4 separate regions of the Homo sapiens genome follow, and all the other regions are linked to region 4. Evidence: fine-mapped expression QTL. A gene starts in region 4. Each other region holds a variant in brackets. All regions are shown on one strand. Distances are from middle to middle. Region 1 overlaps LRRC28 (leucine rich repeat containing 28). Region 2 overlaps LRRC28 (leucine rich repeat containing 28). Region 3 has its middle 150 kb from the start of LINC02351. Region 4 holds the start of TTC23 (tetratricopeptide repeat domain 23).

What was found.
Region 1: its variant is fine-mapped to the expression of TTC23 in monocytes (TOPMed, PIP above 0.99).
Region 2: its variant is fine-mapped to the expression of TTC23 in esophagus mucosa (GTEx, PIP 0.98).
Region 3: its variant is fine-mapped to the expression of TTC23 in iPS cells (HipSci, PIP 0.95).

The regions. Positions count from the first base shown.
Region 1 is chr15:99,277,364-99,285,363 of GRCh38, reverse strand. All of the region lies in intron 3 of LRRC28 (leucine rich repeat containing 28), which reads right to left. It also overlaps the pseudogene HNRNPA1P62. Among named protein-coding and RNA genes, the nearest start is that of LRRC28, 30 kb to the right of the region's middle. The variant C/G (reference allele first, on the strand shown) is at 4,516.
Region 2 is chr15:99,382,846-99,390,965 of GRCh38, reverse strand. It overlaps LRRC28 (leucine rich repeat containing 28), which reads right to left. Exons shown (of 10, transcript NM_144598.5): 10 at 237-4,936. The coding sequence ends at 4,864. Among named protein-coding and RNA genes, the nearest start is that of LINC02244, 16 kb to the left of the region's middle. The variant T/A (reference allele first, on the strand shown) is at 4,604.
Region 3 is chr15:98,271,064-98,279,207 of GRCh38, reverse strand. No RefSeq gene overlaps it. Among named protein-coding and RNA genes, the nearest start is that of LINC02351, 150 kb to the left of the region's middle. The variant A/GCA (reference allele first, on the strand shown) is at 3,595.
Region 4 is chr15:99,245,972-99,254,106 of GRCh38, reverse strand. TTC23 (tetratricopeptide repeat domain 23) reads left to right here and starts at 4,526. Exons shown (of 14, transcript NM_001288615.3): 1 at 4,526-4,936. LRRC28 (leucine rich repeat containing 28) reads right to left here and starts at 2,626. Exons shown (of 10, transcript NM_144598.5): 1 at 2,566-2,626. RefSeq lists a silencer at 2,312-2,851 and an enhancer at 3,102-3,151.

The DNA.
Region 1 (8,000 bases), 31 kb before region 4:
AATGCAAAGCCACACAAGGTGGACAGAAGAGTTGTGGGACTAAAGACAGCTGTCTCAAGAGAAGATTCTCAAAGACCAGGTGCCTACTTAACTGTGAAAAAGATATTTGTTGATGACATTAAAGAAGACACTGAAGAACATTACCTAAGATTATTTTGAACAGTATGGAAAAATTGAAGTGATTGAAATCATGACTGACTGAGGCAGTGACAAGAAAAGGGGCTTTGATTTTGTAACCTTTGATGACCATGACTTCGTGGATAAGACTGTCACTCAGAAATACCATAATGTGAATGGCCACAACTGTGAAGTCAGGAAAGCCCCATCAAAGCCAAGAGATGGCTAGTGCTTCATCCAGCCAAAGAGGCTGAAGTGATTCTGGAAATTTTGATGGTGGTCGTGGAGGTGGTTTTGATGGGAATGACAACTTTGGTCGTGGAGGAAACTTCAGCAGTCATGATGGGTTTGGTGGCAGCCATGGTGATGGTAGATATGGTGGCAGTGGGGATGGCTACAATGGATTTGGTAATGATGGAAGCAATTCTGGAAGTGGTGGAAGCTACAATGATTTTGACAATTGCAATAGTCAGTCTTCAAATTTTGAACCCATGAAGGGAGGACAATGGTGGCAGAAGCTCTGGCTCCTATGGGGGTGGAGTCCAATACTTGGCCAAACCATGAAACCAAAGTGGCTATGCCAGTTCCAGTAGCAGCAGCAGCTATGGCAGTGTCAGAAGATTTTAATTACTGCCAGGAAACAAAGCTTAGCAGGAAAGGAGAGCAAGAGAAGTGACAGGGAAGCTACAGGTTACAACAGTTTTGTGAACTCAGCCAAGCACAGTGGTGGCAGGGCCTACCTGCTACAAAGAAGACATGGTTTAGACAAATACTCATGTATATGGGCAAAAAACTCGAGGACTGTATTTGTGAATAACTGTATTATTTTAGTTTCTGTTCTGTGGAAAGTGTAAAGCAGTCCAACAAAGGGTTTTAATGTAGATTTTTTTTTTTGCACTCATGCTGTTGATTGCTAAATATAGTAGTGTGATCATGACGCTGAATAAATGTATCTTTAAAAAAAGATAACAGAGTGTTGCCAATCCTGACTGCACATTAGAATCACCAGGGGTCTTATTGGTACCCAAAACCATCCTGCAGCAAGTGAAACACCATCTCAACTCAAATAATCCTGATGTACAACCGATTAAGAACCATTACTGGTAAAGTGGATCAGAGAGCGGGCTCTGAAGCCACACTACCTGCACCTTAATAGCCATGTGACTATGGAGAAATCACTGAACTGCTCTCTCTCCTAATCTGTGATGTTGCAGGGACTAAATGAATTAATAAATGTAAAGCTCTTAGAACAGTGCTTGGCTCCTGGTAAGAGTTAAATGAATGCTCTTATTATTGTTATTATAGTTATTATGAGTCATTTGTAATCACAGGCTTAGGACTTTCAAATTTAAGTCACTTCCTTTTACTTAATTTTGGTAATTTCAGAGTAGTTGAAATGTTGATGTTTCAATGTTCTTATTAAAATAAAATGTTCCTCTTCTCAAATAATGCAGGAACTCTCATTCATTGTTGGTGGGGAATGTCACTTTGGGGTATACTCATTTTGGAAAATGGCTTGGCAGTTTTTTTTAAATGTTAAATATGATGTTTACTTAATAGGAATATTCCAGAGTCAGTTTCTTAGTTTTGACAAATGTACCATGGAATTCCTTTTTTTTTTTTTTTTTTTTGAGAAGGAGTCTCCCTCTGTCGTCCAGGCTAGAGTGCCGTGGCTCGATCTCTGCTCACTGCAACCTCTGCCTCCTGGGTACAAGTGATTCTCCTGCCTCAGCCTCCTGAGTAGCTGGGATTACAGGTGCGCACCACCACACCCGGCTAATTTTTTTTTGTATTTTCAGTAGAGATGGGGTTTCAGCATGTTGGTCCAGCTGGTCTCAAACTCCTGACCTCGTGATCCACCCACCTCGGCCTCCCAAAGTGCTGGGATTACAGGCATGAGCCACCATGCCTGGCCTGTACCATGGAATTCTAAGATGTTAACAACAGGACAAACTGGGTAAGGGGTACACCAGTATGACCCATACTATGTTTATAACTTTTCTATAAATATAAAATTGTTCCAAAATAAAAAAAGTTTTAAAAAATAATTTTTAGTTTGGGTGTGGTGGCTCACGCCTGTAATCCCAGCACTTTGGGAGGCCGAAGTGGGTGGATCACCTTAGGTGAGGAGTTTGAGACCAACCTGACCAACATGGAGAAACCTCGTCTCTACTAAAACTACAAAAATTAGCTGGGCATGGTGGCACATGCCTGTAATCCCAGCTACCTGGGAGGCTGAGGCAGAAGAATCTCTTGAACCCAGGAGGCGGAGGTTGCAGTGCACTGAGATGTTGCCACTGACTCCAGCCTGAGCGACAAGAGCGAAATTCCATCTCAAAAAAAAAAATTTTTAATTAAAGAAACAGGACTTCTACTTTCAGTCAGGATGAATAACAACAATGGAGTAAATGGGATTTTCCCAACTGTTCTAAACAACAAGAAAACCAGATGAAATACAGTCACATGCCACTTAATGACTGGGATATGTTCTAAGAAATGTGTCGTTAGGTGATTTCCTTGTTATGCAAACATCATAGGGTGTTCTTACACAAACCTAGATGGTATAGCCTACCACACACCTAGGTTACAAGGTGTAGTTGCTCTTAGGCTACAAATCTGGACAGTATGTTATCGTATTGAATACTGTAGACAACTGTAACACAATCAGACAACTGATACACGATGTATTTGTGTATCTAAACATATGTAAACATAGAAAAGGTACAGTAAAAACACAGTATTATAATCTTATGAGACCACCATTATGTATGTGGCCTGTCATTGACATAATTATGCTGTGCATGACTGTACATGAAACAATTATTTTCAGATATTAACAAAGGCAACTAGGACTACATTCCCTAAGAGAAAGGAAGTAAGCCACACAATCTCCCTAGCTTTCACCCTAGGGGCAAATTCTGGACTGTAGAACAGGAAGGAAATCCCAAAGTACAGAAGTCTTACTGAGTTATGGAGACACATATCAGAGTTCAGGGAACCTGAGGCAACTGGAAGTTGTGGGGTAAAGTTCTGAAGAAGAGAGAGCTACTGCTACAAAAAAAAAAAAAACCTCCAAAAATTTGCATAAGGAATCCCTTGGCCTCACTCATAGCTGAATTCTAGAACAAACACACATAAGAAAAACTCTAACAGGATACAGTGGGTCATGGGTCATACCTGTAACCCTAGCTACTTGGGAGGCTGAAGCAGGAGGATCACTTGAGGACAAGAATTCAAGACCAGCCTGAGCAATATAATGGGACCCCCATCTCAAAAAATAATAGAAGAAAAATAAAAGGTACTCCAGGCAAAAAGCACCTGAAAATCAATCAGCTGAACAGCCTGCAAAGCTCACAGTGTTGAGAGACATTCAAGTTCTGAGCAAGTATGCCAAATCCTTGTTGATCATTTGAGGTATTCAAGAGAGATCCTGGAAAGCTCATGCTTTAGTAATAGGGCTAACCTAACCACCTATCCTAACAAAGTATAAAAATAAGCCATAAAAGGATCAAAGTAAACTGCAAATAGCTGCATGCCAGAAAAAAGGGACACAATAAAATTTAGACTCTCAAAAATGCAAACTTTATAAGGTCCATCCAATCAAAAAGTATTAGACATGCCAAGAATCAGGAAAATATGACCCATAACCAGGAGAAAAATCAGTCAGTACAAATAGAACCAGTATGACACAGATGACAGAATTAGCAAACAGGACATTAAAATAGCTATAATAACTATATTCAGCTATTTAAATGAAAATATGAACATTATAAGAACTGTAAGATAAAGAAAAATAAACAGAACTTCCAAATATCATAAATACAGTAACAGGCTGGGCACAGTGGCTCACTCCCATAATCCCAGAGCTTTGGGAGGCTGAGGCAGGAGGATCACTTGAGCCCAGGAGTTTGATGTTACAGTGAGCCATGATTGCATCACAACACTCCAGTGTAACTCCTGGGTGACAATGTAAGACCCTGTCTCAAAAACACACACAGAAAGCCAGCCTGGGCAACACAGCAAATCCCCATGTCTATGAAAAAATTTAAAATTTAGCTGGGCATGGTGGTGCATGCCTGTACTTCTAGCTACTTGGGAGGCTGAGATGGGAGGATCCCTTGAGCCCAGGAGTTCAAGGCTGCAACGAGCTAGGATAGAGCCACTGCACTCCAGCCTGGGCGACAGAGCAAGACCCTGTCCCTTAAAAAAAAAAAAATACAGTAACCAAAGAGAAAACTTCACTGAGTGGGATTAGTATAGTACATTAGACACTGAAGAAGAAAATATTACTGACTTTTAACACAGAACATACAATTTGTCCAAACTGAAGCACATAGGGAATAAAAGTCTGAAAAGGAAATGAAAAGTCTTAGTGACTACGAGACAGTATTAAACAGT[C/G]TAACAAACAGGTAAGAGTTCCACAAGCAGGGGCCAGGAACAGGGTATATAAATAAATATCTGAAAAAACAATGTCAAAAGTTTTCCAAATTTGATAAAAACTGTTAAGACACAACCCCAAGAAACCCCATGAACCTCAAAGGTAAGAAAGAAGAAAACTACAACAAGATACACCTAAATCAAACCCTTAAAATTAGTGTAAAAAATGAAAACCCTTCAAAGTAGCCCAAGGGAGAAAAAGACACATACACACAAAGGAACAAATATAACAACTGTAGATGTTTCTTCAGAAACTATGCACGCCAGGGAATAATGAATATCATGAACGTGCTGATAACAACAACAACAAAAAAAATGGTCACTAAGAATTCTAATCCCAGAAAAAAATTTTAAAAATATAGGTGATAAATGTACAATAAAAAACTGTAAGACTTTGGGGTGGGGGCGGGGAAAGGAGAGAGTCTTTGGGACCTAGGGCTAGACACAGAGTTTTTAGACTTGCCATCAAAAGCATGACACATCAAAGCAAAAAATGATAAACTGGACCTCATCAAAATGTAAAACTTTTGCTCTGCAAAAGAACATAAACAGGATGAAAACACAAGCTATACACTGGGAGAGAATATTTGTAAACAACATATAGAACAGAAAACTAGTTTACAAAGAACTCTTAAAACTCAGAAATTAAAAAAAATACAATCAGAAGATGAGCAATAGACATGGACAGGCATTTCACCAAAAAAAGATGCCAATGACAAATTAGTATACAAAAGGATGTTCAATATCATTAGTCATTCTAGAAATACAAATGGAAATTCCAATGTCATAAAAACCACATATCTATCCAAATGACTAAAATAACAAAGACAACACCAAATGCTGGTAAGATGTGCGGACGCTGGAACAATCATACATTGCCAGGGGAAATGTAAAATGGAACAGCTAATCTGGTAAACCGGCAGTTTTTTACAAAACTAAAAATTTTGAGCAACAGTGGTAGAGTAAGAACCTCCAAAAATTCTCTTCCATAAAAACAATGAGAAACTGTCAGAAATGTCCAAATGCTACATGTTGAGAACTCTGGAAATGAACCTAAGGCTTACCATAATACAGGGAGAATTTATCCAAGAAAAAAATGACTGAGCGTCAGTAAGAACCGTGGGTTGTAGGCTTCATGGTATTTTCGCTTGCTCTAGTCCTAACCCCACTCTCCTGCTCTGCAGAAGCCTGAAAAACCAACAGTTCACAATCAAAGAGAAAAGCAGTAGCAAGGGGGTAGGACCACGTTAGAGTGCCTTCAAAGCTTCCTTCTCAGAGAACTGTCAAAGATTTGTCTCAAGGTTCCCTGGAAGACCCAGTTGCAAGGCTGTCTTTATTCCGTCTGAGTAGCAGATTGCCCAGGGCAAAAACCACTGTAAACTGAAACAAATTACAGGCAATTGTTTAACTTCACAGCTGCTTGAAACAGTTGTAACAAACAACTGACAAACCACAAACTGTAAAAGGAAAAGCTTTCAAAATGTGGAAACCACTCAAATGTCTATCAACTGATGAACAGATAAACAAAAAGTCATGTATCTATTCAACGGAATATTATTCAGCCATAAAAAGGAATTAATTCTGATACCTGCTACAACATGAATAAACCTTGAAAACATTATGCTATGTTAATGCAGCCAGATACAAAAGGTCACATATTGTCTCATTCCACTAATATAAAACATCCAGAAAAACGTGTATCCATAGAGACGGAAAGTACATTAGTGATTACCAGGGATTGTGGGAAAGTGTATACTCTCTCTTGCTCTTTGGCTTGCTTGCTCTGATGGAAGACAGTTGCTATGTTGTGAACTATCCTACAGAAAGGCCAAATGGCAAGGAAATGAGGGAAGTGCTCTAGCCAACATCAAGCAAGAAATGGAGTCCTTCAGTTCAACAGCCTACAAGGAATTGAACCTGACAACAACCACGTGAATAGAGGAAGATCCTTCTTCAGTTAAATCTTCAGATGAGACTGCAGTCCTGGCCAACAACCTTGACTGCAGCTTCGTAAGAGACCTGGAGGCAAAGGCACCCAGCTAAGTCAGGCACAGATTCTGGGGCCTCAGAAAATACAAGACACTGAATGTTTATTCTTTTAAATCACTACATTTGGGGGTAAGTTGTTAAGCAGCAATAGATAATTAAAAAGGTGAATATTTGCTTAACACAATAGACTACAGACACTTTAACTGTAAAGCCAGCATCTTTCTTAATGGGGAAACCCTAGAGGCATTCCCAGCAAGATCAGAAAGAAGACAAGGGACCAGGTGCAGTGGCTCACGCCTGTAATCCCAGCACTTTGGGAGGCCAAGGCAGGTGGATCACAAGGTCAGGAGTTTGAAGCCAGCCTGGCCAAGATGGTGAAACCCCGTCTCTACTAAAAATACAAAAATTAGCCAGGCGTGGTGGCGGATGCCTGTAATCCCAGCTACTAGGAGGCTGAGGCAGGAGAATTGCTTGAACCTGGGAGGCAGAGGTTGCAGTGAGCCAAGATTGTGCCACTGCACTCCAGCCTGGGTGACAAGAGTGAAATTCGGTCTTAAAAAATTTTTTTTTAAAAAAGAAAGAAGACAAGGATGTCCACTCTCTCCAGGACACTTTCACATTGTCTAGAGGAACGAGCCAATGCAATAAGACTAAAGAAAGTAATTAAAGGGATAACAGCTGGAAAAGAATAAGTAACACTATCTGTATTTTCCAACATAAGAGTATACCTGGAAAACTCTATAGAGAATCTATCATGAAAACTAATTGAAACAATAAAGATTTCAGCAAGATACCAGGATATAAAGTTAACACGCAAAAATCAATATTGTTCATATATACAAAATACAACCAGTTAGAAGATATAACATGACAAAATTCATTTACGATAGTAAAAAAAGATTAAATACTTAGTAACAGACTTTAGAAATCTTCAAAACCTATTTTAAAGAAAACTATAAAGTACCTAAAGGATGCAAAAGTAGACTAAAAAGATGGAAAGACATCTTTGTTCCTAGAAATACATACTTATTTAGAGACAAAGAAAAAGCCATGATGTGCATAACTCACAAAAGCTTCAGAAAATAATAAATACACATATACATACATACAAAAGGATGAAAGCAAAAACTTGATAAAGCAAGTTTTGGGGTCAAACACCACAAAAAATGTTTAAATCAATCTAATCAAGAGCAAATAATACAGTAAATTCAGACATCTACTTTTAAAATACATTATTTTTGAAAACTTGCATAATTTAAACATGAACTGTGTATTAAATTATATTGAATATTACTTTCCTTAGGTGTGATAATGACATTATGTCTGTAATTTACCTTCAAATCATTCAGCTTGGGGGAGGGGGCAGAGGGGTAGGAGACAGGTAGAAAAGGGAAAGAGAAAGCAAATGTTGCAAAATGTCAAAATTGGTTAAATTTAGGTGAAGGGTTTACGGGTGT
Region 2 (8,120 bases), 140 kb before region 4:
GTAAAATAAAGACAGTCTTGCAAATGAGGTCTTCCAGGGACCTGCCTGCCAGGTCAAATAATGACAATTCTCTGGGAATGAGGCTTTGAAGGAGTTCTAACCCCATTCTGCCCCCTCTAGTGGCTTCCAGGCTGCTACTTTTCACCTTCATTGTATACTGTTGGTTTTCAAGGATACAACAGAGACGGAAGGGGGAGATAGGAATAGGGCAAGTTAAAACACCACAAAACTCGTTGTTCGTATCGAGATTCAGCCATTTCTCTTGAATAAATACTCCACCATTGACATTCTGAGCATTCACATGGTTCAAGCTCAATTATTCTATAAACTGCAGTAACTGAGAGAGGCAACCAAATTGGATAAAGTATGAGTTTTTAGCCACACTCCAAATGAATGTTGCCATAATTTTTCAGAGGCCTGGATTTCATTATGTATCTATTTTAAAAATCTTGGATCATTTAGACTCAAAAATCACAATAAGAAACAAAACCTGATATTCTTTAACACAGGTAGCAAAGATAATCCACACTTGAGTGGAAAAAAGTCTGGCTAACCCTTGAAAGTCTCTTAATTACATACAGAAATAATCTCCGAATGCTACACCTTCTGCCCATCCACCACACTCGCTGCCAGTACCTTCTGTCTCCAAAGTACAAGGGGACCACACATACAGTCATACTTCAAAGGCTGTGAAGCAAGCTCTTTTCCTGACCGAGAGAATGTCAGTCACTTGGCTATGATCAATTCCTTTCCTAGAGACACCGGCATCACTTTCAGATCTATTAGCTGATGACACAAGGAGGTAGCTCCTCACTGTAGGCACAGTGAAACTTGAATGATTTTTTTTTGAGACGGAGTCTCGCTCTGTTGCCCAGGCTGGAGTGTAATGGCGTGATCTCAGCTCAATGCAACCTCTTCCTGCCGGGTTCAAGCAATTCTCCTGCCTCAGCCTCCCGAGTAGCTGGGACTGCAGGTGCGCGCCACCACGCCTGGCTAATTTTTTGTATTTTTAGTAGAGATGGGGTTTCACCATGCTGGCCAGGCTGGTCTCAAACTCCTGACCTCAGATGATCTGCCCTCCTCGGCCTCCCAAAGTGCTGGGATTATAGGCATGAGCCACTGCCGAGACTTGATTTTTAGATAGACATAGAGCTAGTTTCAAAAATACAAACTTTATAAAAACCCCCTTTGTTTGAAGAAAAGGCAAGATATTCACTGAGTTTCTGGGAAATGTAGGAGAACCTCAATAGAAGCAAGCAGGAGTGAATGAAAACCACAAAAATGAAGGCATAATAAAACAGGCAGGGTAATGTAAGGATCCATTTAAAGAAGAGTCTTAAAGAGAGTGTGTTTATGAGTCTGTGAAATGAATTTACATCTCAAATTTTATCAGGTTGCAACATTAGTGTTGGTCCAGTTAGAAATCCATGTTCATAAATCATCTTAATAAAAATGTTTTTATTTATGCTGAGGCAATGTATTGTGTTTAAGTACTTTATAGCAAAGATTAGAATTTCTGATTTTTCATTCAGGAAAGGGAAAAACCTTTACTACTACTAATTTTAAAAATTGGCTTTGAAAGTCCCCACAGACTACAAAATAGTTACATATTTTAGAGAAAATTATATGCAGAGCCTCATAAGCCAACTGGTATTGAAGCCTTTTTTTCCCCCTAGACTGTAAAGATTTTAATTCGTAATGCTCAACGTAAAACAGAAGTGAGAGGTACATTACACTAGTCGGACAAGCTGGAATGTGAAAGGTCTTAGTGAGGCACGGTGACCAAAAGATGTTTAATGTACACCTCACTTTTCCAGAAGAGAAGGGTCAGGTAACAAAGAAGTTCATCACTCTTATCCGTTAGCCAGAGTGGATCCTCCACCCAAGCCAGGGTTCTTTTGAATAGGGATCATTTAATTATTATGTATTTTAAGAATGTGCTCAAAACATGTATTAACTGAAGATGCAGCATTTCATCCACACAATGTTATGTAATTAAGGTTTTTGGTATGATAACAATTGGACATACTGAAGAACACTGATAGGGTAATCCACTAAAATCGGCCCCCTTTGCACTACTTCATAGGAAGGCCTATGCTCATGAGGCTATCCTGGACTTTAAAACTTATCGCTAACCACACAAGAGTTCACTGAAGTAAACTTACCTGAACAGAGATGATACTTTCCAAGTAGCTCACTTTTTTTGCATTACTATTATTGTGTGAATACTTTTCTACCTAGTGTAACTGTTGCTCAAGAAAACAACATATATAATAACTTCAGATTTGCTTTTCTGCAAAGCTTTGGACACAATTCAAATATATAGCATGTAGGCAAATTTTCTCCAGTTGGTAAGACTCCTTTATAGTATCAAAAGATTAAGAATGACATCGATAAATCCAGCATAAAATTTCCATAATGAACAGCACCAGGGAAACCACTTAAGTTCCACTTCTCATCAATTAAGTTCAGGTGCTGTACCCAAGGATTAAGGTTGAGACTGCCCAAAGGTTGTCTGCCCAGCCCACTGCTGTTGTTTAACACACCGTAGTTCATAATAGGTAGAGAAAGAATGCCTGGATTGTAAGCATTTTTGTAAAATTTCAAACAAGGTAAAACTAATGTATCACCTTATCACAATGAGAATCCTGAATACCAAGTTAGCACATTTCATAGCTCCATTCCATGACATATGATTGTAGAGGATGAAATAGAAAAATGTAGCAAGACATTTACTGTCACTTAAATCATAGGTAGCAGTCACTTAGGCCTGAAGCACAATTGTGAAGTTTCATGCCACATTTTCACCAGCTAACTTATATACATGTAGAGGTTATGTTAAACTTCAATTATTCCAAAGGATGAAAGTGTTACATTTTGATACAGATCTTCAGTTCCTATTTTACTATAAGCCTTTGAAATGTTAAGGCTGAATAGACCAAGATATGAAAAGGGACAAGAGGAAGTAAGAACAGTGCAGATACAGTGGGAACACACGGTAACTTTCTGCCTTCTCCATTCTACGTGGACGGTGTGCTTTCCGGGCAGCAGGTGTTGTGACTGTAAAAAGATCACACATTTGTCAGTAACTATGTAGGATTTTTGGCACTGTTAAGAGCGTAGCATTATAAAGTCAGGGCAGCTAATAAAAATTCCCTCAACCAAATTTTTGATAAGTCTGAAATTAAAAAAAAATAATTTTTCTACCAAGCAAATTCTTGGTTCTCCATTCAGCCCTGCCTTTTAGAAAACTTACATCATTAAAAAACATTTTAAAAAAAGAATCACTTCACAGCAAGCAGATGAACATCTGGCAGCAAAGCAACATTAAAATGCCATCCTTTGAAAGGAAGAGCAAATACGTGACTTCTTCATGAAGAGTTCTTTCTGGCAGGGTGGAGGCTCACAGACTTTCTGTTTATGGACTTTTGCAGAAGTCGAAGGCTGAATTTGGACCTGCTTTTCCTGTATTTTCTCAGTTGCATCTGGGCAGTAAGCTAAGTATACAAGAAACGAGGGCCAACATGAAGACAGTGTGGTGCACCAGGTGACGAAGTAAATGTGCACGGGCTGTACTTTGAATCATCCTGTTAAAAACCAGTAGTGGGCCGGGCGCGGTGGCTCACGCCTGTAATCCCAGCACTTTGGGAGGCCGAGGCGTGCGGATCACGAGGTCAGGAGATCGAGACCATCCCGGCTAACACGGTGAAACCCCGTCTCTACTAAAAATACAAAAAATTAGCCGGGCGTGGTGGCGGGCGCCTGTGGTCCCAGCTACTTGGGAGGCTGAGGCAGGAGAATGGCGTGAACCCGGGAGGCGGAGCTTGCAGTGAGCCGAGATCCCGCCACTGCACTCCAGCCTGGGCGACAGAGCGAGACTCCGTCTCAACAACAACAAAAAAAAACCAGTAGTGGAAGTAGCTGAAGCCTTTCACATGTGACAAAAATATTTCAAAGTCAGTATAAACTGAATCATAAACCCATCAAAAAAGAACACGGAGGTCTTATTTCAATGTGTGTTTTCTCCCCCTTTCTCATTGTATGGAAACTTTATATTGAGAAAGAAAAAAATCAGATCTTGTAAAGCTTCAAATATTCCTCAAATTCTTCTCATATAAAAAAAATCTTATCAGGAAATTTAAAAACTTCAAAAATCATTTTTCTGCAAACACTTTTAAAAAACAGGAAGTGTATTTCATTACAATCTACATTTTTGTTTTTAAAATCCCTCACAAAAGTCTGTTGCTACACTGTAGAACGTATAAACAAGGCTGGAACTTTCCAGAGGGTGTGTGCTCTGGGACCCTCACTGAGCCTCCATGGGAGCCTCACTTTGCTGCCAACTCAGGCGCCCCACCCTGCTACTCAAGACCATTGAGGCCACGGGGTTTGCTGAAACTCCTCAAAAACTGACAAGTTTCCACTGGAGACACTGTGGAGAACATGGTCTCAGGGAAATAACTCTCTGGGGAAAGCAAGGGAGGGGAGAGGAGAGGAAGCATCACTGAAGGTATGTGTGTTCAAAAGGGAATCTGGCTAGATGATCAAGTCACTGTTCTCCAAGGACCGGAAACTTGCTTTAAATTAGATTTGGGGAGGCCCA[T/A]CAATCTAAATGGTTTCTGTAAAAGACACACTCACATAAAAAGGAAAAACACAGAAGACAAATGGGTCCTTAATTTGGGGGAGGATATATTCCAACTTGGGGGAAGGGTGAAGGCATTTTAGCTCTGAAGCTCAATCATGACATTTCTAGAGAGTTCTGCAGTGCCCCCGCATTGGACAGGACAGGATGGAAGAGTGTGCTGGACTGGCTGGATTCCCCAGTGTCAAGCTGGCAGCGCTCCTGAGGTTCTTGAGTGTTTATCAACTCAGCAGGTCAAAAGTCTGCAGACACTGGGTGGAGCAGCAGTAAGCCACAAAACTAACAGTTGTCTTCCTGGAAGGGGAAAAAGGGAGAGAAGAACGCTGTGAGTTCAAGATTAAAGTCTCTGATTCTTTCTGCTGGAAACTTTTTTCTTTGTTAAAATGGAGGATTAGCCATGGTCAACAAACTGCATAATAGAAATTTAAATTTCCTTTTCAAACTGAGCACTGGAATCAGGTGAAGTATGTACATGTGAATGTTCATTTTATTTATTTATTTTTTGAATGTTCATTTTAATAGCAGCGTTCAGAAGATATATTATCCCTAAAGTAGAAACTAAGAAAAAAAAAAAAAACAAATGCCTTTTCCACATTACGTTTCGAACTCTGCTTTCTAGAACCAACAACGCAATCACAGAATTGAAGTCCATTATAAAAATCATGTAACAGAAAATGTCTCCAATTTAGCCAGAACACATATATACCACAGAGCTTAAACAACATAATTTTAAGGAATTTATCCTACAAATGTACGCATACACATAGGTTGCTCGTAGAGGTCATTTCAGAATCTGAATAATACAGTTCAAAGGTCTTCCCACATATCAGAGGTTTGGGCACCTTTGTGCGTGAGTCATGAGCCCCAGGGGGCCTCTGACCCACTCTGGACAGCTCCAGCTATTAGATGCCTTGTTTTCCTGCCAGAAGTGCTATCCTCTGGTAGAGGGAGAAGACTCTCTTGTTGTTTCCACAAGACCCCCTGTGCTGATTGTTTTCTATTTCCTCACCCCCAACACAGTCCGCCTTTCCCTGTGGCCCAGGAAGGGGACCTCTGTAGACTTTACCAGCAAAGTTGCCTCAACTCTAGCTTCTGGTTAGGCCAGCGAGAGGCACCAGCAGGAGGCACCAGCAGGGGGCTGAAGGGCAGGAAGAAGGAAGGTTGAGTATTTCCACCCCACTCCCTCTCTACCTCTGGGACTGGAGCTCCTATCAGGCAGGCCCCCTTTGCTACCTCTGGTTCTCGCCAGGCTCCAGAGAGAGCTCCCTTTGCCCTTCAGGCCCAAGGATTAAGCATGGTAAGGGCTTCCTACTGCTGTGAGTCCCTGCGTGCCTCAGTATCCTTCTGGGTGCTCTCCACCCTGCCCAAACTTCAGCCAATTGTCCTTCTTCATTAATTTCTCTTCAAAGTCTCAGCCAAATGTGCATTTTGTTTTCCAGCCCTGATGAATACAGTATGTGTTATGAGAAGTGGCCCAACGAAGCAGCTCATCCAAGTGAGATTCTGAAGTTGGGCTGGCGAGTACACGAATGGCTTTCTTACTAGAGAGAAGTGGGACCCTGCTAATCTGTAGCATGTGGTGGCATCATGGTTACTCAAATATCACTGGAACAGAAGGTAACAGGAGGGAAAGGCATTGGGAAAGCAAGTGGCTGTGGCACTTGACTGCTATGGCATCACGGTGATTCCAAGTTTGTGGGGTGAGATGGCTTCTTTTGACTGTGCTGAAGAGATTCTGAAACGAAAACAATAAGCTTAGTGCCTTGAGATCTCAACTCAAGGCATGGACAGAGAATCAGAAAGTTTTTATGGTGGCCTTAAGTGAATCCTTATTTTATGAAGCTGCAAGGGACATGGCTGAGGCTAAATGTAGAGGTTTCAGGATCACATGCCAGATAAAGATATATTTATGCTAAGTCTCTTATGCTAAGGTAAAAGGTGCTGTTGAGAAAGAGTGGGAACTTGAGACTTGATATGGGAGCCTCTAGACAGGCACAAATCTAAGAGCCTTGACTCCCTAGCATCTCTAAACATTTCTTCATATCAGAAACAGACCTTTCCACCTTCTACGAAAACTAGCATTCCCTTGGGTAAAAATGTTTCAATGGCTTCCCCTGGGGTGGTTACCTAAAAACTTTTCAGGACCCACCACCATCAATACTCATCGCCTCTAGGGCCAAAAAGGGTAAAATCCTAGCATGATCCAGAGATCATTGAAAGGTCTACTCCTGGAGGAAATCACATACACGCTGATGGAGTTGCAGGATCTTGTCAAATTATATTAGCAGGAACCTGGAGGGCACGCATGGAAACGGATTCTAAGTACATTGGCCAGCAAGAATGAATGTAAGATTGGATCAGGCCAACAGGGGTACTTCACCTATACCTCAGAATATGATACATTAAGCACCTGGGAATGGTTAACAGAAGCCTTGACTCATTGCAGGCCAACAGCTAATGAGACAGCTATGCTAGACTCCCCTTGCAGATTCTAGAGGGAGGATAAATGGGAATGCAGAGAGGACCCAGGGTGGCGGACCCTGCTCAGCCACCTCCTGAAAATCTCCAGGAGGGCCAAGAAGTCTTTTTCTTCCCTAAGCCTAAATGTATTTGCAAGGGGGAATACAAACTGGAAGTAGCAAGCACCCTTGATGCCTTCATAGATATACGATTATCAGAGGTGAGAGAGAAAAATCCTGCAAGAGTTCATATGCCTACTACATCAGTGCAGTTTCAAATGGAAAAGAAGAGTTGTATCCAGAACTGCCCACTACAGAGAAACAGACACACACTTGGTGGATCCCTCTGGATTTTGGGGGAAAATATATTTAGGTGGAACTTCTGGTTCTGCCAAGATGGGGTAGGCCCCATTCTTCCCAGGTCTTCCCCCCTCCACCTGAAACACTCTGGACAAAATACAACAAATAAGCACAGGCAAGCTTTGAAAGGGAGAACCAAGGCAGACAGCCTAGGGACAGTGGGACTTGAGGAACAACGCAGTGCTGGCACGTTCCCTGGGTACCTTATTGCCCTCTATATCTTAAATAGGATGCTGTAGAAGCCTCCAATCCAGAATCAGTAACAGGCACAGATGCAATTGGCTCCAAGTAAAGCCCATGCCCCCAAGCCAAAGGCCAGAGACAGGAAAATCTACAGAGACAGAAAGTAGATAAGCCTAGGGCTAGGTATGATGGGGACAGAGGGACAGGGGCAAGAGCTAAATGTTCAGGGTTTCCGTATGGGTGAGAAAATGTTCTGAAATGGATTAGGGTGAGGGTTGCGCATATCGCTGAATGTACTAAGAAACACTGAGTTGTATACTTTAAATGGGTGAAATTGTATGATACGTGAATTATCTCAATAAAGCTGTTAAGAAATAAGAGAGATGAAAGGAGAAATAGATAAATCCAAAAATAGAATTGGGGACTTCAATACCTTACTCTCAGCAACTGATATACTAGATAGAAAATTAGTATAA
Region 3 (8,144 bases), 970 kb after region 4:
ATTATACTTTAAGTTTTAGGGTACATGTGCACAATGTGCAGGTTAGTTACATATGTATACATGTGCCATGCTGGTGTGCCGTACCCATTAACTCGTCATTTAACATTAGGTGTATCTCCTAATGCTATCCCTCCCCCCACCCCCACCCCACAACAGGACCCGGTGTGTGATGTTCCCCTTCCTGTGTCCATGTGTTCTCATTGTTCAATTCCCACCTATGGGTGAGAACACGCGGTGTTTGGTTTTTTGTCCTTTCGATAGTTTGCTGAGAATGACGGTTTCCAGCTTCATCCATGTCCCTACAAAGGACACGAACTCATCATTTTTTATGGCTGCATAGTATTCCATGGTGTATATGTGCCACATTTGCTTAATCCAGTTTATCATTGTTGGACATTTGGGTTGGTTCCAAGTCTTTGCTATCGTGAATAGAGCTGCAATAAACATACATGTGCATGTGTCTTTATAGCAGCATGATTTATAATCCTTTGGGTATATACCCAGTAATGGGATGGCTGGGTCAAATGGTATTTCTAGTTCTAGATCCCTGAGGAATCGCCACACTGACTTCCACAATGGTTGAACAAGTTTACAGTCCCACCAACAGTATAAAAGTGTTCCTATTTCTCCACATCCTCTCCAGCACCTGTTGTTTCCTGACTTTTTAATGATCGCCATTCTAACTGGTGTGAGACAGTATCATTGTGGTTTTGATTTGTATTTCTCTGATGGCCAGTGATGATGAGCATTTTTTCATGTGTCTTTTGGCTACATAAATGTCTTCTTCTGAGAAGAGTCTGTTCATATCCTTTGCCCACTTTTTGATGGGGTTGTTTGTTTTTTTCTTGTAAATTTGTTTGAGTTCATTGTAGATTCCTTTGTCAGATGAGTAGATTGCAAAAATTTTCTCCCTTTCTGTAGGTTGCCTGTTCACTCTGATGGTGGTTTCTTTTGCTGTGCAGAAGCTCTTTAGGTTAATTAGCTTTATTAATGCATCTCAAGACCATTTTGATTTCTTTGGCAGCTACATCACACTAACCATCAGTGTTGATTTCTAGTCACTATTAATCGGGTCCTATGATGTGCTGGGCACGAGGGATAGCACGGTGGGCAAGACAGATGTGGCCCTTACCTGCAGAGAGTTCACAGTGTGATGAGGAAGATCCACTTGGATGGAGGAATCACTGTGTTAGGAAAGGTGAGGCCAGACATTGATGGGATTATATTAATACATAGGCTATGGGCTCATATCTAGTTCTGTTGTGGGGAGAAGCCCCCTGAGGAAGAAGCATTGAAGTCGAGCCCTATAGGCTGCACAGTTGCTCACCAGGTAGAGCAGGAGTGGGAAGGGGGTGTGGCAAGTGCACCTAGAGAGGGAACAGCACACCCAAAACCCGAAGGCGAGGAAGGGCGTGGTGTGCCAGTGAATGACTGGATGTCCTGGATAGGAGGGACTGGATGAGAGAGCAAGGCCAGAGGAGGTTAGGAGGAGGCCAGATGCTGGAGCCGGCCTGGTCTTGAGAGGGCCTGTGAATCGTGGCCAGGGTTCTGCCTTGCACTGTTGCCAAGCCCTTTTAAGTAGGAAATGGCATGATGAGGTTTTCTGTTCACTTCAGAACCCGAGTCTTTTTGATGCATCCTCTTTGTAAGAAATCACATTCCTCCTCCAATTCCCTTCCTAGGATTGAGCCCTGACTTCTACATGCAAGTGAAGAGCTGTATGTTCATCCACATTTTAGACTCATTGTGTGCGATTATGACAATCTCTATGGACACTCACATTTGGATTCTGATTCTATCCCCCGATATATTTATCTATCTCCCAGCTCCACTCAGTTTTGCTAAGTCTCTTCTGGCTCATTCCAGGTTGATGGGGGTTTACAGCTGGATAGAACCCGATGGCGCTTCCCTACAAACTGTCCTCCTGGCTGCCGTAGAGCCATTCATGGGCTCACGTGGGTTCCTGTTCGACCTCCCTTGCCTCCACCTAATTGTAGCGACCTCAGCCTGCCTGTCTTCTTCTTGCCACCATCTGGGAGGCTGCAGAGGCAGCCATATCCATTGGCCGTGGGGCCATTCCAGAGCTTGCCTTGGCAGTGTGCTGTGCTGCTCCTGGAGGTGGTGCCTTGTCTCCACTCTAGAACTGCCTACGTCTCATCTGAGTCAGGCTGACAAAAACAGAGTGTCACAGACTGGGCGGCTTACAAACAACAAACATTTATTTCTCTCAGTTCTGGAAGCTGGAAGTCTGAGATCAGGGTGCTGCTGGCATGGTCAGGTTCTGGGGAGGGCTCCCTGTCTTCCAGGATGCAGATTGCTGTCTTCTTCTGGTATCCTCACATGATGGCAAAATGAGAGAGCTCTCTGGTGTCCCTTTTGTAAGGGCACTAACCCATCACGATGGCTCTACTGTTGTGGTCTAATCCCCACTCAATGGCCCCACCTTCTAGTACCATCACCTTGGGGGTTAGGATTTCAGCATATGAATTTGGGGGTGGGCGCAAACATTCAGCCCACTGCAGATCCCCTGCACAGTCGTTTTTTGAGGCACTTAAGAGAAAGATGATTTCCCATAATTTCCTATCTGACTCTTCGCTGAGGATGAAATAGGCCCAGATGACACCACGGTTGCTACCGTTCGGAATGTGGAGGAAACTTTTAGTGTGAATGCCTGTGAAACTTAGGAAACCTCCCAAGAGGACTCGGCCTGAGTTTGGAAACCCTTCTAAAGGGGGTTTTGCTTTGTAAAACGCTGACTCAGTTGACAGATGGCCCAAATGCTTATTTTGGTCAACACCTGAAAGCAATTTGGGGCTTTCTAATTATTACTCCAGAAAATAGACTAAATCCCACTCAACAAATGTGGAGCTGGCCAGTATGGGGCCCCCACGTGCTAATGCACTGGAGGCTGGTTCTGTTATCAACTGTGAGTCCCTCTTGAGTTCCAGTTCCTGGTGGGGCTCCAGGTCTGTCCTGGTTCCATTCAGAACTCCAGCTTTCATCAGCCTATCTGATGTGTCCACTGAACCTCTTTCAGTCTCCTGTGTTGTCACCTCTAGTGCAAATCTGGGCTTGCTTCTGGGGCTCCGCCATGGCAGTAGGAGGGCTTTTGGACAGATTGAACCTGGCTCCGTCCCAGGCAGGACACAGCTCCCTTGGCAAGTACAGCAGAAGTATCTGTTCCTGTTAAGACATAAGCTCCACTCACCTCCCTTTACTGCCTCATCACACTTTGTCCTGGTTGCATCAGGACTGTGGCTCTTCCATCCTTTTGTGCCTGGTTTAAGCCAGCTACAAATTTCTGGATTGCAACCACCAATTAGCATGCTTTATTGTTAACAACCATAGTAATGGCACAACTAATTTTATGGATTACACAGAAATAATGATCAAGGCAGCCTATTTTAGTGAAAATGGGTAATTGTATAAAGCCATGAAGACACGGCCTTATGATGGTTGAAAATTCAAAGCAAGCACCACTTGGATGGTGCGGTGTTGAACCAGCTAATTATAGTGGTTTTATATCCGTGTTTGATCATTTAAAAAAGGTTTCTCTCTCCACACACACACACACACACACACACACACACACGC[A/GCA]CGCGCACGCACACACAAAACCCTATCAAACAAGTTTCTCTTTGAGTTTACAATTACTGTTGTGGGCAGGGAGGTTTCTGAATCACAAATGAAAATTTGAACATCAAAGAGATTTTCTCCCCTTCTTCTAAGGGAAGAAGAGCTTTTTCTTTCCAACTATATAAGAAGGGAAAAAATACATAGATTTGAAATTAAAATTTCGCCAGGGCGGTAAGAGAGTAGAAAACACCAAATTCCTACGTGTGGGCAGGTTTGAATGTTGCTCTGATGAGATATAAATGCAGCCTTAAGAAAGAGACATAAAGAGAGAGAGAGCACTCCTAGTTTTAAAGTCCAGGTCCAGGACTATGGCACCCTTTCTTTCTGAGCAGACCACACTCAGAGGCTAATGTATCATCAACTGTCTGATAAAGAGAAAGGGTAAGGGATATCCCAAAACCAATGAACTCTGAGCTTGCCTGAAAGTTTATCCTGTAGAGGAGGATTGATAAAAAGTAACTTTTAAGAATGACAACAGTCTTTGATAAACAAAAATATATTAAGTTTATGTAAAAGCGTTTGGCTTTGAATGGATCATCAATTTTGAAAAGGATAGTATCATCACAAATGGAGGAAATATGTCCACTTTATTAATTAGTAAAAACAATAACTGTGTTCTCAATGTGTATCTTTGAAATGTGTCATTTTGGCAATCCTTTTTCACAGACTGTGCTGTACTTTTCTTTTTTGTTTTGTTCCTTAGTTTTTTTGTGATTCAATGAATGCCAACAGCTGACATAGAATAATCTATAGCTTATAAAGTTCTCTCACACATTGTTTTGTTTGGATCTTACAACAATCTTATAAGATAGTGAGATGTTAGCTCCCACATTGTCAAAGAAGAATCTAGCTAACTAAGGAAAATCTGCAAATGACATCATGGTTAAGACTGGGACAAAGCAAGGTGTTTGTTCTCATCCCTCCTATTTAAGACAAGGAGGAGTCATTAATAACTATGTATGGAGTTTCTGCAGAATGCCAGGAACTGTGCTGCATGCTTTTTATTATGGTGTTTTGTTTAATCCTCCCTATAATGCCTCATGTAGAGACTCTTTCCCCTGTTTCACAGATGAGGAAACAACAGCTCAGAGATGTTGTGCCTTTGTCCAGAGTTGCACTGTGACTTTGGATGATGGCTGGAGGATCCAAAAGAGAAATGCTGTTCACTGACTTGCACAAACTGCTCTGTGCTTGTGTTAGAAATTCAGATACCAACACAACACTAATCACAATAGCAAACACATGGAACCAACCTGGGTGTCCATCAGTGGTGGACTGGATAAAGAAAAGATGGTACATATACACGACGGAATACTCTGCAGCCATAAAAAAGAATGATATCATGTCCTTTGCAGCAACATGGATGCAACTGGAGGCCACTACCCTAAGTGAGTTAACATGGACACAGAGAACCAAATATTGCATGTTCTCACTTGCAAGTGGGAGCTAAGCATCGGGTACACATGGACATAAAGATGGGAACAATAGACACTGGGATCTTCAAAAGGGGGAAGAAAGGGAGGTGGGGATTGAAAAACCACCTATTGGGGACTATGTTCACAATTTGGATGATGAGTTTAATAGAAGCCCAAACCTCAGCATCATGCAATATATCCATGTAACAAACCTACCTGTGTATCCCTTGAATCTAAAATAAAACAAATAAATACATTAAAAAAAAAAAAGAAAACAAATTCAGATACAGAGAGGACCATAACAGCCTGTATCTGAAGGTGGTAGGCCGGAATGTGACTCCGAGCGTGCTGGGTCTCCTTGTTCCTTTCCACTTATCAGTAGTAGACCAGACTGTTGGTAGGTCTTTTAAGTTTTCATAAATTTTGAGTCCTGCATGCTAAAAAGCTATTTGTTTTATAGAAACAAATAATAAAAATACAAGAAAAATAAAAAAAGAAAGAAAGAAGAAATAAAAGAAAAGAGAATTTCTTCCCTTTCCAGTGAAAAACAAATTCCAATTGGAAAGTTAAAAAAAATCAGATGCAGGCCAGGCGCAGTGGCTCACACCTGTAATCCCAGCACTTTGGGAGGCCAAGGCAGGTGGATCACGAGGTCTGGAGATCAAGACCATCCTGGCTAACATGGTGAAACCCCGTCTCTACTAAAAAACAAAAAATTAGCCAGGCGTGGTGGCGGGCGCCTGTAGTCCCAGCTACTCAGGAGGCTGAGGCAGGAGAATGGCGTGAACCTGGGAGGCGGAGCTTGCAGTGAGCCGAGATCGCGCCACTGCACTCCAGCCTGGGTGACAGAGTGAGACTCTGTCTCAAAAAAAAATAAAAAAAAAATAAAAAAATAAAAAAAATCAGATGCAGCATTGCTATTTTAATGCCCTTTAATGCCCTTTAAATCTCTAAGGTCACTTTAATAGATTGTCTGCTGTTTCTCATGAAAATATGTTGCCCATTAAGTTAAATAGACTAGGATAGTTTAGTCAAGTGAGGTTTCACATGTAATGATTGAATTTTCATTTTCTGAGGTTGTAAATTAAATTTACAACACTGGCATAAAGTTGAGAGCCGAAGACTCCATCCAAAGTTGGACTAAAACAAAGGTACTGTGATATATTTGCAGGGCTGGGTGTGTTCCTCTGTGTGCCACTGTTTTATCATGAGTCAGGAAATCCCACGGGGATACCCCCCCAGCCAGCCTAGCTTCACTCTCCATCCACCTGGGTTGCTCTTTATCCGCCCACCCCACGATGCCTGGAGTAGGGGGGGAAGAAGAGAGAAGATAGGGTATGTGGGGAAGGTGTCTACCTGCTGCCAGCACCATTTCCATACGTACCTCCCTGTGACCACAAGGGGGTCAGGTGTGGAGAAAAGAAGTGTATCCTACCCAGAGTGCTCAGGTAGAAATGTCCCTGCATAAAGAAGCTCAATGGTTAAAGATTTTCCACTAGGTCAGGCCAAGGGAGCAGAAATGTATTATTCACATATTATGTGTGAATAATATTCACATATGTAATTCCAGCCGACTGGAAAGGTTTGTACTAAGAGAAAGTGAGTCTGTTTGATGTACATGAAATTTTGCGACTCCCAACACCTTCTAGGAATTAATATTTCTGAGGTTTTTTTTTTGGTAAATTAACTGGCTACTTATTATTTCATTTTATTATCTGCTCTTGTTAGCAAAAAATGCATTAGCATCTGTCAAATGCTTAAGAACATTTTCTAGAGACAAGCATTGCGTCTAAAAGATTATTAAGGTTTTGGAGGTGGCAAAAATAATCGGGCAATAAAGCTGTTCACAGTCTCGTACGTGTATATGTGTATTTCCCTCTTTCCTTTCAATTTCTGGTTATATTATTATTATCATTATATAATAAACTATAACAGTCTAGCATGAAAACAATTATAAAATAGTCATATGAAAAATGCAGAGATCATTCTATTGGAAAGAGGATGTCCTTCTACAATGATGAACATCTAGTTATTATTATTATGACAATCCCTAGAGATGATTGAACTGTTTCTTGTCCCTCTGATCCAGCCCATTAGTGATTGCTCACTTCAAAATCAAAGTGTTGAGAAACATTCCAGTCTGTGAAATTAAGTGATCGAAAGATTTAGGGGATCGCTCTTTTCACTTTTTCTTTGGATGTGTAAGAATATGTTAAGGGGTATACTTGGATATTTCATCAAACTTCAAAAATGAATATTTTGATTTTAATAAGAAAACCAAAAGTTGCTATTTATTTATGAAATATATTCCGTTCACTTTCCCAGAAGACCAGATCACTTTATCCCATCTAGTCTTGCTCTGATAAACGTTGTGGAGAAAAGGTCTTCTCTTCTCTGGTGGAGGTGCGGTGAGTGTCATCTCACTCACACATGCTAAGCCAGAGATGAGTCAGGGAAGTGTGAGGGAAACGAAGTGTGTTGTTTTACACACGGCGCTGACCACAGAGCAATATTTTTCAATTGAATATATGATATTAATATTGTTCCTAACAATAGCACTTATTCCATCCAGTCAATGCCAGTTCCGCTTTTTTAAATGAACTCATGCTCCTATAATTGCTAATGATAACAGCATATCAAGTACCATTTACTGGCTATTTTCTTCTGAGCATTTAATATGTGCTAAAGACTTTACACACATCATGTCATCTTATCCTCACAACAATTCTCCCAACTATATACAGTTCACAAATCAGGAAAAGAGGTAAAAGGTAAAAATAACTTGCTCAATTTAACACAGTGGCAGACCCAAATTCAGGCCTCTCTGTCTCTAATGCTTTACACTTAATCATACTTTACTACCCATGGCAAAGTGTCTCTCCCTTTTCTATAATGAGAAAAGGTTAGTCAATTCATCTTTTTAAAATTTATTTTTATATTTGATTTTTTAAAAATATCAAGGGTTGGGTAGTTACTTTCCTAACACAGCTGCTGAAATGGAAGGACGTGGCTGAAGCCCAGGGTCCCTTTGTGCTTTTCTAGGGATGAGGAAACGTCAACCTTCACTCAGTTTCACGTCTCTAAGGCCCAAGGGCA
Region 4 (8,135 bases):
CATAGGTAATTATTCACTGAACTAGGAAACTGTTAGCAGTTTAGATGTCTCACAACCATCTCAAACTTAACACATTCAAAGAGCTTTCCATTTTCATCATCAATCCGAATCTCCACAGTTTTTCCCATCTCAGTAAATGGCTCACCCCTCCATCCACCCAGTGGCTCAAGCCGGAGAAGCAGGAAGTCATGAATGATTCCATCCTTTCATATTCTGACCACCTCCAATCTATCACAAGGCTAGTGGCCTCTATCTCCCAAATACATCTCAAATCCATCCAAATCTCTCCATCTGCCAAAACCACAAGCCACAGTCATCTCCTGCCTGGCCAACAGTATTACCAGTCTCCCTGTGTCCACTCTAGTCACTTCCAACACATTAATCCCAGCAATGGGCCTTTAAAAATGTACATCCAATTACATCTCACTCTTTTCGGTACACATCTTACTAAATAAACCCTTCAGAAACTTCTTACTTAGAAAATCAACTCATACTAGGCCTTGAGGGTGCCTCACCATCTGCCCCCACCCACTTCTCCAGCAACTCTGCTTGGCTTCTCACCAAGCTTCTGGGCTTTTCCAATCCTCAAAGCTACTAAACCCCTAACAGCACTTGCTGGTCTCCTCTTAGCCTAGAAAGCAATGTCCCATCATTCTCCAGATTTCAACATAAAAATTACTTCCTGAGACCGGGCGCAGTGGCTCACGCCTGTAATCCTAGCACTTTGGGAGGCCGAGGAGGGTGGATCACCTGAGGTGAGGAGTTCGAGACCAGCCTGGCCAACTTGGCGAAACCCCATCTCTACTAAAAATACAAAAATTAGCTGGGTTTGGTGGCGGGCGCCTGTAATCCCAGCTACTCGGGAGACTGAGGCAGGAGAATCTCTTGAAACCGGGAGGCGGAGCTTGCAGTAAACCGAGATCGCACCACTGCACTCCAACCTGAGCGACAGAGCGAGACTCAGTCTTAAAAAAAAAAAAATCACTTCCCTATCCCAAAGTAATTCCCCTGGTGTTCTTTCAGAGGAACTTGGCTGTTTGTTTTTTCTTCGTAGGACTCCTCACAATTTGTCACTTAAATATTTATCGTTGCATCTGTCTATTGTCAATAAAGCCAAAAAGCCTGTAAATAAACCCTTCCGAAACTTATTTAGAAATCCTGAGGGCAGGGACTGCGTTGTTTTCTTCACGCTTGCATACCTGCATCTAGCACAGTAACTAAAAGTAACCCTTCCTAAAACCTAGGTGATGGGTTGACAGGTGCAGCAAATCACCATGGCACACGTTTACCTATGTAACAAACCGGCATATTCTGCACATGTATCCAGGGACTTAAAATTTTAAAGTAGGCCTTCTAATATCTGATGACATGTGGAAGAACATTGCAAGGTTGATTTTTCATCCAACTATGTCAAGACCACGGATAGAGCCTATAAGCTTGCTACATGCCACAAGGATGTCTAATCTTTACAACCATGCACTGCAATAGACATTATGTAGCCCGTTTTGTAGAGGAGGAAACTGAGTTTCTCAGAGGGTAACATGCCATAGTTCCATCGCAGGTGGACTGACTACAAAGCGTGTGCACCGCCGCCCTATAATGCAAAACCACACTCACTGAAGGAAGATTCAATAAGACAGTCCCTGTAACCTGACGGCTTTCCTTCTGAATGTTCTGGCTGGGATTGGCTGCCTCAAAAACACCATTACACTCTGTTAAAATTGCTACAAAGGCTGTTTGGGAGATAAAATCTAAACAAATGAAATCCTAAAACTGCCAATAATAGCAATAAAGCATCAACAATGCTCACAGTTTTGCAGTATGCATTCACGGGCCATACACAGCCTTTAACAAGGTAATTTTCTTACCCCATTTCACTTGACTACATCTTACCTAGTTAAGCAAACTACCTCTTGTATAGTTATACTACCTCTTATGTAGTTAAGGCAAATAGTATTACTTAATATCAGCTGTATACAGCTGCACTTACACACGAGCTTTCTGACAGGTGAACACCAATCTATCTTATTATTAAAAACAAAACAAAAAAATCAAAAACCTCTCAACAAAATTCCACACATATTAAGGAGTATTTTGAAAGGAAGGAGTCCCTTATACTGACCTCCCCGTACTCAATTTAGTAGAATACGCATTCCAATTTCCTAACGCTGGAGATTAGAGAACTATAAGCTACATATTAAAAGCATTTGTAAAAGGCTATTTTCTCAGCTGTGGTAACAAACACTGGCAGAGTCTTAGGCAAAACACACGCCGTTTCGCCCGAGTTAGCCAGCCACTGAGATCGTTACAGTTGGGAAGCAGCGAGCCCAGCAGCAGGGATTTCACGGACCCGGTATCAGGGTTCTCGGGTCCCAGGGGCCGCGGGCCGCAGAGTGGGAGGAGGACCCGGCAGCTGTGGCCACCCGAGGCCCGGACGGCTCCGCTGTCCCACTCGCCGCGACCCGGACGCTTTGGCAGGACCACGTCTGGGGCGTCCCCGCCGGGGGGCCGGGTCAGAGAGCCTCGCCACTTGAATCACCCGACGAGGCGGACAGCTCTACTCACCTCAGCGCCAGCAGAGCCAGCGCTCCGGAGCGCAAGCGGCGCTGGAAGCCAAGCGGGGGACGGCGGGCGGGGCGGGGCAGGGAGCCAGGCGAGGGCGGGGCGGAGCGCCGGGCGTCGGGGGCGGGGCTCCGGGGGTGGAGCGGAACCCGCGCCAGAGGGAGCTGGGGAAGAGGGAGCGGGAGAGGAGCACGGAACCTCGCGATAATCCCCTGTGTTCTCGCGCTTTCACGATAGGCGCGGGAAAATGCTCGTTTGCCAAGCGATCTGTGTATTGGCCGAGAGCGCTACTTCCTCTATGCTGGCCCCGCCCGCGGCTCTACTCTTGCTTCCGGCTCCGGCGTGGGGTTTGATGTCGACGGAGTGGCTTTTGCTTAGCGTCTTGAAGGGGTAATTTAGTCGGCTCCAACTTCGGGAACCGCCAGTTACTGACCTGTTCCTTCATTCATACATTCATTCAGTCACTCGGCTTCTCATTCAGAGCACACGTTGAGGGATTACAACAATGATCCCACGTTGAGCGTTCGTTCTAAGAGCTGTTTATAGATTATCTCGTTGAACCCTTGACAGCAATCCCATGACACAGGGACTAACAGCGCCAGTCTGACCGTTGAAAAACAGGCCAGTGGGTTTATGTAACGAAGCCAACGTTATTTAGCAAGTAGTGAGTCTAAGCACCGGATTTAAGGGGTCACTACGAACTGGTAGATAACAAAGATGAGGAGGACGTAACCTAGTCTCTGCCCTTCAAACACCCAAGGTTTATTTTGAGTAAAGATTGCTAAAAAGGTCAGGAACAATTTAGAGAGTTAAATACAATGACACTTCCTAGCCTGACTGAGTAGGCCGTCAATATGTATTTCTTCAAGACGAAAATTATTATGTCAGCGAAATAGCATGAAAGAGGGCTTTATGCTGTTAAAAATACTTGGAAGCATAGTTCGGAAACATTTTTAAAAGACACTTTTTAAAGTGTCTCATTAATATGACAAATTTCCTTCTGAAATGAAGATTTTAAAGTATAATCCTCTACTACAACCGCTGATATTTTTTGTTCTGTGGAAAGCCTGTCTATGAGTTTGCGAGGCTCCTTGTCAAGGAACTTTAACTTTATAATGAAGTAGTTTTTACAGTTGCTGACTTAATTATTCATAGAGACGAATAACCTAGAAAGCAGAGTTATATTAAATAAAAAACATTGGTTTTAAAACAAGGTATGAGTTATAATAAAAATTATCAGTTATCTATTAAATCTGGTCTTCAAGAGCTATTCAGGTATACAGCATGGTTGGTATATGTCATGTATTTCTAAGATAGTTTCGGAATACCTAAGAATTCGTGGCACTCAGAAATTTTTTGCTGGTCTTAAAATGAGGAAATCCACATTTTGTGTAAAAACAAAGATACGGTGTTTAATGGTCAGCCCAAATAATAAGACTTGCTGCTAATATATGAAGAGTTACACCCCCCAAAAAAGAAAAAAGATTAACAGTAGAACAGTTTTTTGAAAACAATGTTAGCCTCTTAGTTTTCATTTCTTTTTTTTAATGGGGAATACTGTTTTTCAGTGATTAATATCTGATATTTGATCATGAAAAATGAATCATGTTAAAATAACCTTCACCTCCTCCCCACATTGACACAAAAGTTACCAAGTGATTATATTTGATAATACTTTATGACCCCACTCTTGAAGTTCTCACAATTTGTAGAGAATCAATTCGCACGTTTTGTCTCTCTTAAAGGGGAAAAAAATCCTCTAAGCTGGTGATTTCACGTTCTTTGACAAACTTCAATATCAACAGGCAACGATACCACTTTAAGAAAATTCCAAGGAAAAGACCTCATTTTAAAATTCCCACCTCTGGCTCCCAAAGATTGGTTTGCAAACTTCGACAAAATACTCTTCTCCACTCGCTATTGGTGAGTGCTCTATCATTCATTCTTTTGCCTGGAGTTTTGTGAGGTACCCGCTTGCTTTATGGGAAAAGGCTGCTCCGGAACTGCCCTACTTTAGACTTTTTCATGGTTATCAATCTGTACAAAGAATCACCAAACTGATAAAGCAGGAACCAGAGGGCAAATCACGCTGCCAAGACAACTGTGTAATTCGCTCGAAAAAGAAACGGTGAGCCTCTCCAGCAGACTGGGTAAACTGGCAAGGGATTTTACGACATAGTTGGAGATTGGAGAGTTACAGAAACTTTTCCGGTTTTTTACAAGTTTTAAAGGAGTGATTGAGTGTCAAAGGAAAAGCAGAGAAAATACAGGCACAATTTAAAGACAGCAGGAAGAAGAGTGTTCAGAGAGCATTTTTCTCTTTAGGGTGAAGTTTGAAAGCATCATGCCCAGATTATCAGTGGATTTTTGAAAGGTAAAGGAGGCAAGATAATAAGATTAACTATAGATCATTTTCTACTTTAAGAAACTGTGCTTCGTTATTGTTGCTTAAGTGTGGATTTAGAAGGACATTTAGTAATATTGTAATTTTTATATGGATATTTTTGTTTATATATTGTCATACCTGGCATAATAGATAATATATCTATTAAAAGATATAGGAGAAAATAGAGTTGCTTGAACCCAAATTTTGTGTATATTTGTGGATTAGGGATTCCAGGGACAGATCTGCTAATGGCTGAACAAAACATACTACAGATACCTGAAGCAGAATCAGCATGTAAGGGTAAATTCTCAAAAAAATCCAGCAATCATATTTCAAAAATGACATTTTTAATTAAAACAAATACAAAAGAATTTATCAAGGAAACGTTGATGAACATGACTATTTCTTAAGTTGCCTGTGTTAATCCATATAGGGGAATATAAAGTAATAAAATCCAGCCCCTCAAGAGCAGGGACAAATGAGGCTCAGAACATTTAAACTAAAACTTCTGAACAGTTCTTAATGCCCGGATGACTGTTGTAGAGCACAGGTGCTTCAGGAGCTCAGCTCAATGTGAGATGAATTATTCAGAGAAGGCTTCACAGTATGGGTAAGACTCAATTTGGGCCTGAGCAATGGGCAGAATTTCAGAGAGAAAAATAAGGGAAGTGGCATCCCTACTAGTGAGTGAGTTGTTAGCAAATACATGCAGCCTGAGGAAGAGTTGGTTCTGACTGCGGCAGAAGGTTCATTTGGAAACTTTGGTTACAAATTTTAAAAAGCAGCATGAGAAATATAAAGAGCCGGAATTCCCAAAATCAGGGGTTTGGGTCCTGTGTTTGGAACAGGAGGCACCCCTTATGAAAGTAATATTTGAAGACAATAAAACTGACAGTGGAATTTAAGATGGCTAGACCAGAGCAGAGACCAGAAGCTAAGGGGCCCCATGCTGTGTAAATACTGGCACACAGGTTAGTAACCATGCTTCTTACCCGAATACATTTACCTTATCATTGTTGAATAATATAAATTTTGATGCACTTCTTTGTAGTCTTCGAAAGCATTGAGTTTACTTCTTTAAGATTTTTGGGGACCGCTGCCACACTGTCTTGGGGAGTCATGGTTGCCCCGTCTTTATAAAAGTCTTGTCATAATATGTATAAAAACCAGAATTACACATAAAACTGCGTTGTGGTTTCATAGCTATTTTTAACAGCTTTAATGAAGTATAATTTATATATTATAAAGTTCATTTGTCTTAAGGATATAACTCAATGATTGTTTTAGAAAATCACAACCATCACCACATTCCAATTTTAGAAAATTTTCATCATCCTAGAAAATTTAGAAAATTTTCATCATCCTAGAAAATTTAGAAAATTTTCATCATCCTAGAAAATTTAGAAAATTTTCATCATCCTAAAAAAATACTTTGTGCCCATTTGCAGGCAAGTCCTGGTTTCCTATCCCCAGCCCCAATCACTAAAAAACTTTCTGTCTATAAATTTACCTTTTCTGGGCATGTAAGTGGAATTACACATTATGCGATCCTTTGCATCTAGTTTCTTTTACTTAGCATAATGTTTTTGAGGTTCATCCATGTTGTAGTATGTCTCATTACTTCATTCCTTTTTATTGCTAAGTAATAATCCACATTTTATTTAACAGTACCAATTAACAGACATTTGGATTTCTTCTAGTATTTAAATATAGTGTTTAATTGTACTAATTGTAATTGTATTACAGTAAATACAGTACAGTATTTAGCATTATGAATAATGCTGCTATGAAGATGGGTACAAGTTTTTGTATGAACGTGTGTTTTCAGTTTTCTTGGGTGTATATCTACGAGTGGAATTACTGTCATATGGTAACTCTGGGTGTAACTTTTCAAGGTGTTGCACAACTGCTTTCCAAGGTGAATTTCCCATTTTACATTTCCACCAGAGTGTATGAGGGTTCCAATTTGTCCACATCCTCACCAACACTCCTTATGATCTGTCTTATTCATTGTAGTCATTCAGCTGGATTTTAAGTGGTATCTTATTACAGCTTTCATTTGCATTTTCCTGATGACTGACGATATGAAGCATCTTTTCATGTGCTTGTTGACTATCCATATATCTTCTTTTGTAAAATGTCTTTCAAATATTTTGCCTATTTTTTTAATTGAGTTGTCATCTTGTTACTGATTGTTTTTTGGTTTTTTTGGTTTTTGTTTGTTTGTTTGTTTGTTTGAGACTGGGTCTCGCTTTGTCGCTCAGGCTGGAGTGCAGAGTGCCACGATCTCGGCCCACTGCAATGTCCACCTTCCGGGTTCAAGCAATTCTTCTGCCTCAGCCTCCCGAGTAGCTAGGATTACAGGTGCCCACGACCACGCCCAGCTAATTTTTTGTATTTTTAGTAGAGACGGGGCTTCACCATGTTGGCCAGGCAGGTCTCGAACTCCTGAACTCGTGATCCACCTGCCTTGGCCTCCCAAAGTGCTGGGATTACAGGCATGAGCCATCGCGCCAGCCCATGTTAATAAATTTTTTTTTTTTTGACACGGAGTGTCACTCTGTCACCCGGGCTGGAGTACAGTGGCTCGATCTCAGCTCACTGCAACCTCTGCCTCCTAGGTTCAAGCGATTCTCCTGCCTCAGCCTCCTGAGTAGCTGGGATTACAGGTGCCCACTACTATGCCCAGCTAATTTTTTGTATTTTTAGTAGAGACAGGGTTTCACCATGTTGGCCAGGCTGGTCTTGAACTCTTGACCTCGTGATTTGCCCACCTCGGCCTCCCAAAGTGCTGGGATTACAGGCGTGAGCCACCACGCCCAGCCCCATGTTACTGATTTTTAATTGTTCTTTATATATTGTGGTTAAAGTCCTTTATCAGATTAATGATTTACAAATATTGTCTCCCATTCTGTGGGTTGTCTTTTAACTTTAATAATAGTGTCTTTTGAAGCAGTAAAGATTTGGATTTGATGAAATCTAATTTATCTTTTTTTTTCTTTTATCACTTATGCTTTTGGTGTTATATCTCAGAAGTCTTTGCCTAACAGGCTGGGCCCTGTGACTCACACCTGTAATCCCAGTATTTTGGGAGGCCAAGTCGGGTGGATCACCTCAGGTCAGGAGCTCGAGAACAGCCTGGCCAACAGGGTGAAACCCCGTCTCTACTAAAATTAGCTGGGCGTGG